Regions from separate parts of the Homo sapiens genome. Here region 1 is reported to be linked to region 2. The links are microRNA targets in miRTarBase. Many come from high-throughput screens and were not tested one by one. Region 2 holds a microRNA gene; the other region holds the end of a gene's coding sequence.
What was found. Region 2 holds the annotated microRNA hsa-miR-6511a-5p (CAGGCAGAAGUGGGGCUGACAGG, at 2,281-2,303, shown strand). A microRNA usually pairs through its seed, bases 2 to 8, with sites in the 3' UTR of a target mRNA and lowers its output. Matches are read on the target gene's strand: a 7mer-m8 pairs with bases 2 to 8, a 7mer-A1 pairs with bases 2 to 7 and ends in A, and an 8mer does both.

Region 1: the mRNA of SDE2 is a reported target of hsa-miR-6511a-5p. Seed matches in the 3' UTR shown: 7mer-m8 at 1,959-1,965 and 7mer-m8 at 1,396-1,402.

Annotation. Positions count from the first base shown.
Region 1 is chr1:225,982,780-225,985,779 of GRCh38, forward strand. SDE2 (spliceosome associated SDE2) reads right to left here. Exons shown (of 7, transcript NM_152608.4): 7 at 1-2,744. The coding sequence ends at 2,523. Among named protein-coding and RNA genes, the nearest start is that of SDE2, 15 kb to the right of the region's middle.
Region 2 is chr16:16,322,312-16,325,706 of GRCh38, forward strand. MIR6511A2 (microRNA 6511a-2) reads left to right here and starts at 2,277; the gene lies at 2,277-2,343. It also overlaps the pseudogene LOC131696449 and the pseudogene PKD1P1. RefSeq lists enhancers at 939-1,794, 1,864-2,666.

The DNA of each region.
Region 1 (3,000 bases), not on the chromosome of region 2:
GTAACTTATGACAGGACTTACAATATTTAAATATGTAGATTTAATATGTATGACAACTACAGCATAAAAGACAGGTATGATAAATGGATGTACATACTTACAAGATTTCTACATTTTATGTGAAGTGGCACATCAACTCTAGGTAGACTGAAAAATTAAGAATGTATATTGTAATCACTAGAACATCCAACTTAAAAAAATTATTAAAACAGTATAGCTAAAGAGCCAATAAATTAAAATACAATTATAAAATAATCTTATCTAAACAGGAAACATGTAAATTAGAAACCTATTAATAATTACATTTAATGTTAAACTTATTAAAAGATACAGAGAGAACAGATAAAAATGCAAGTCTCAAGTATATGTTGTTTAAAGAAACTACTTTAAATAGGCACAGAAGCACAAAGTAAATTAATAGAAAGAGGTATACTGTGCAAACACTAAGCTTAAGAAGGCTGCAGTGGCTATATTCACATAAGATAAAGTAGATTTCAAACCCAAATTACCAGAGACAGAGGGAAATTTCATAATGATAAAATGGTCAATACATTAGGAAGACATAAGTTATTAGAGCTTCATACAAAAACTGGTAGAATTTAAGAAATAGACAATTCCACAATCATAATTGAAGATTTTAACATCCTTTCTCAGCACCTGATAGAAATAAACAAAAGGATCAGTAAAGACATAGAAGATCTGAACAATACTATCAACCACTTAATCTCATCGATATTACAAAACATATTAACCCAACAATTCAAATTACATATTGTTTTTCTTAGAGACATGGTCTCACTATACATTGCCCAGGCTGGTCTCGAAATGATCCTCCCACCTCAGCCTCTCAAATTACAGATTACAGCTGTAATCTCAGCATGTAATCTCATGCTGGATTACAGGCATGAGCCACCACACCTGGCCTAAAATACGCATTCTTTTAAACTGTGTATGGTACACTCACCATGACAGACAACATATTGGGTCATAAAACGAGTCTCAATAAAACTAAGAGGATTGAAATCATAAAGAGGATATTTTCTGACCTCAATGGAATTAAAGTAGAAATCAGCAACAAGAAGATATTAAGAGGAAAAAAAACAAATGTTTGCTGATCAGACAACCCACTTCTGATAATCCATGGGTCAAAGAAGAACTGAGGGAGGAAATTAGAAAATAATCAGAGGCTGGGCATGGTGGCTCACACCTGTAATCCCAGCACTTTGGGAGGCCAAAGTGGGTGGATCACCTGAGGTCAGGAGTTCGAGACCAGCCTGGCCAATGTGGTGAAACCCCATCTCTACTAAAAATACAAAAATCAGCCAGGTATGGTGGCTGGAGCCTGTAATCCCAGCTACTGAGGAGGCTGAGGCAGGAGAATCGCTTGAACCCAGGAGGCAGAGGTTGCAGTGAGCTGAGATCGTACCATTGCACTCTAGCCTGGGCAACAAAAGCGAAATTCCATCTCAAAAAGAAAAAAAAAAGAAAATTAGAACTGAATAATAAAAATACGACATAATAAAATTGTAAAGTCGCAACTAAAGTAATGCTTAAAAGAAAATGTATAGCTTTAAATATGTATTTTAAATAACGTCTAAGATCAATGACCTAAGGCTTATCTTAAGGAACTAAAGAAAAAAGATCAAAGGAGACTCAAGCTAAATAGAAGAAAGAAAATAACAGAAATTAATTATATAAACAATTGAGAAAAATAAAACCAAAGGTTGGTTCTTTAAAAGTTATATCGTCGGCCAGGCACGGTGGCTCACGCCTGTAATCCCAGCACTCTGGGAGGCTGAGGCGGGTGGACCACGAGGTAAAGAGATCGAGACCATCCTGGCTAACACAGTGAAACCCAGTCTCCACTAAAAATATAAAAAATTAGCCGGGCGTGGTGGTGGGAGCCTGTAGTCCCAGCTACTGGGGAGGCTGAGGCAGGAGAATGGCATGAACCCGGAAGGCAGAGCTTGCAGTAAGCCGAGATCGCGCCACTGCACTCCAGCCTGGGAGACAGTGTAAGACTGTCTCAAAAAAAATAAAATAAAATAAAAAGTCAGATCAGTAAAACTGATAAACCCCTACCCAACCTGATTAGGAAAGTGAGAACAGAAATTACCAGTATCATAATGAAAAGGAAATTATCAACACAGCTCCTAAAGACATTAAAAGGGTAAGAAGGGACCATTATAAATAACCTTATGTCTACAAATTTGATAACCTGGGTCAAAAGGATAGATTTCTTGGATAGATTCATTACCTAAATGACACCAAGATCAAACCAAAAAATGTGAATAGCCCTATATTTATTAAATACACTATAGAAAACCAGACAAAGAAAATTTAAGGCCCAGATGGTTTCAGACATTAATTCTACAGCCCTGACAAGGAAAAAGGGGATAGTTAGAATTGGGTTACTAAAAAGTTAGCTTTTAATATCAACAGGAATACTGGTCAAGAGTCCACATTATGCAGGTTGTAAATGGTAGACACTATAAACAAATAGGAATCAGCTCTGATGATACTCATTTTTTCTTCCCTTTCAAAGGCTTGGCAAATAAAGCCGGGTCAATTTGCTCCTTTGCCAGTCCTCTGACAGAGAAGAGTCTTGCTGCCCGCTCCTGCAGAGTGCCCCCACATTTCAGTCCAAGGGCCATCAGTTCACATTTGAGCTTCTCCAAACCCAGCAACTCCAGTTCTGCAACAGAGGTGAACGCCAATAAATCTATAGTTTCCTTATCAATAACCTGAGGGAAAAAAATAAGAAAATATTTAAAACAGGCTCCTTCCTCTGAATAAAGACTCTTTAACTGTCAACTACATTTCTTGAGAAATTTTCATTTAATTTGCCATACCTTGCAACTGAATTTTAATCATCATCCATCCACATGTTATTCCATAAGTATTCTCAACACACATAATAACTAATTTTTCATCTATACATTTAGAAACAAGCATTCAGAACAGTAACAGAAGTATAGCATTCCCAAACAGATTTTTAAT
Region 2 (3,395 bases):
AGCCCCGTGGTGGAGGCCGGCTCGGACATGGTCTTCCGGTGGACCATCAACGACAAGCAGTCCCTGACCTTCCAGAACGTGGTCTTCAATGTCATTTATCAGAGCGCGGCGGTCTTCAAGCTCTCAGTAGGTGGGCGGGAGTGGGGAGGGGAGGGGATGGGGCGGGGCGGGGGCGGGCTCCACCTTCACCTCTGCCTTCTGCTCTGCTTCATGCTGCCCGAGGACGCTGCCATGGCTGTGGTGAGTGGAGGGAGGGACGCCAAGCAGGGCAGGCCTCTCACCTGCCACCTGGGCCCACTGATGCCTGTCCCTGCAGCTGACGGCCTCCAACCACGTGAGCAACGTCACCGTGAACTACAACATCACCGTGGAGCGGATGAACAGGATGCAGGGCCTGCGGGTCTCTACAGTGCCAGCCGTGCTGTCCCCCAATGCCACGCTGGCACTGACGGCGGGCGTGCTGGTGGACTCGGCCGTGGAGGTGGCCTTCCTGTGAGTGACTCAGGGGCCGGTTTGGGGTGGGCACCAGGCTCTTGTCCGGGCACCAGGCTCTTGTCCCGGCTCCAGCCTCAGCCGAGGGACCCCACATCAGGGGGTTGCTTTTCTGAGCCTCGGTTTCCCTGTCTGTTGGGAGGTACTGGGTGCACAGGAGCCCTGAGGCTGCACGGGAGCCGGGAGAGGCCTCAGCACAGCCGGGTGGGCCCTGAATGGAGGCCCGGGGCGTGACTGCAGAGTGGAGCCTCGGCTGGGTCCCAAGCACCCCCTGCCCCGCCACCGCGCACCTGTGCCCCGCCACTGCGCACCCCTGTCCCGGTTCACTCACTGCCTCCCACCGCCCCGGCAGGTGGACCTTTGGGGATGGGGAGCAGGCCCTCCACCAGTTCCAGCCTCCGTACAACGAGTCCTTCCCGGTTCCAGACCCCTCGGTGGCCCAGGTGCTGGTGGAGCACAATGTCACCCACACCTACGCTGCCCCAGGTGAGGGATGAGGGGGTGAGGGGGCCACTGCCTTTCAGGCTCTGAGCACGGGGCCCCCCCAGTCCCCCAGTCAAGCTGCCCCGCTTCCTCCCCAACAGCCCTCACTGTGACCTCACCTGGGCTGATGGCTTAGGCCCCTACTGGGGTGAGGGAGGGGCCAGGCGTGGGAGGAGTGGACAGGGAAGCTGGGCCCCCTGAACTGCCCCCCACCGCGGCCTGGCTCTTGCTGCTCTGCTGCCCCGAGTGCAGCTGCACTTGGAGGCGGTGCCGTCCTCACCAGGCAGCCCTCAGTGCTGCTGCACCTGTGCTCCGTCCCGCACGTGGCTTGGGAGCCTGGGACCCTTAAGGCTGGGCCGCAGGTGCAGCCGTTCACCCCGGGCTCCTCAGGCGGGGGGCTTCTGCCGAGCGGGTGGGGAGCAGGTGGGGGTGCCGCGGCTGCCCCACTTGGGCCTGTCCCCACAGGTGAGTACGTCCTGACCTTGCTGGCATCTAATGCCTTCGAGAACCGGACGCAGCAGGTGCCTGTGAGCGTGTGCGCCTCCCTGCCCTCTGTGAGCGTGTGCGCCTCCCTGACTGGGGCCTGCTGGTACCCCAGAGTGGGTGTCTGTTCCCCAGTCCCTGCTTTCCTCAGCTGGCCTGATTGGGGGTCTGCCCAGAGGGGTCGTCTGAGGGGAGGGTGTGGGAGCAGGTTCCATCCCGGCTCAGCCTCCTGACCCAGGCCCTGGCTAAGGGCTGCAGGAGTCTGTGAGTCAGGCCTACGTGGCAACTGCGGTCCTCACACCCACACATACGTCTGTTCCCACACGCATCCCCCCAGGGGCCCTCAGTGAGCATTGCCTGCCTCCTGCCAGGGTCCAGCTGGGTCCAGTACACCAGAACGCACACCCCAGTGTCCTCTGCCCTGTGTATGCCCTTCCGCCGCCCAGGTTGGAAGGTGGCAAACCGGATGAGTATCCTGGGAGGGGGTGAGCTCACCGGCAGTGGCCAGGCCCCTGGGAAACCTGGAGTTTGGGAGCAGCATCCTCCACGGGTCCCCCAGACCTTCCAGCAGGCCAAATAGACCTGTGTTGGAGGTAACCCCACTCCCACGCCAGGTGCTGATCCGCAGTGGCCGGGTGCCCATTGTGTCCTTGGAGTGTGTGTCCTGCAAGGCACAGGCCGTGTACGAAGTGAGCCGCAGCTCCTACGTGTACCTGGAGGGCCGCTGCCTCAATTGCAGCAGCGGCTCCAAGCGAGGGGTGAGTGTTGAGCGGGGTGTGGGCGGGTTGGGGATGGGTCCCATGGCCGAGGGGACGGGGCCTGCAGGCAGAAGTGGGGCTGACAGGGCAGAGGGTTGCGCCCCCTCACCATCCCTTCTGCCTGCAGCGGTGGGCTGCACGTACGTTCAGCAACAAGACGCTGGTGCTGGATGAGACCACCACATCCACGGGCAGCGCAGGCATGTGACTGGTGCTGCGGCGGGGCGTGCTGCGGGACGGCGAGGGATACACCTTCACGCTGACGGTGCTGGGCCGCTCTGGCGAGGAGGAGGGCTGCGCCTCCATCCCCCTGTCCCCCAACCGCCCGCCGCTGGGGGGCTCTTGCTGCCTCTTCCCACTGGGCGCTGTGCACGCTCTCACCACCAAGGTGCACTTCGAATGCATGGGTGAGTGCAGGCCTGCGTAGGGGGAGCAGCGGGATCCCCCGACTCTGTGAGGTCACGGAGCCCTCCTGTGATGCCGTGGGGACCGTCCCTCAGGCTGGCATGACGCGGAGGATGCTGGCGCCCCGCTGGTGTACGCCCTGCTGCTGCAGCGCTGTCGCCAGGGCCACTGCGAGGAGTTCTGTGTCTACAAGGGCAGCCTCTCCGGCTACGGAGCCGTGCTGCCCCCGGGTTTCAGGCCACACTTCGAGGTGGGCCTGGCCGTGGTGGTGCAGGACCAGCTGGGAGCCGCTGTGGTCGCCCTCAACAGGTGAGCCAGGCCGTGGGAGGGCGCCCCCGAGACTGCCACCTGCTCACCACCCCCCTCTGCTCGTAGGTCTCTGGCCATCACCCTCCCAGAGCCCAACGGCAGCGCAATGGGGCTCACAGTCTGGCTGCACGGGCTCACCGCTAGTGTGCTCCCGGGGCTGCTGCGGCAGGCCGATCCCCAGCACGTCATCGAGTACTCGCTGGCCCTGGTCACTGTGCTGAACGAGGTGAGTGCAGCCTGGGAGGGGACCTCACATCTGCTGCATGCGTGCTGGGGACCAAGACCTGTTCCCCTGCCTGGAGCTTTGCGGAGGGCTCATCCCGGGCCCCAGAGATAAATCCCAGTGACCCTGAAGCAGCACCCCGACGTTCCGCTCCCAGCAGCCACACCCACCAGGCCCTCTCCGGCGTCTGCTTTCCACAATGCAGCCCCCGCCCAGGAGGGCCCATGTGCTTACCCTGTTTT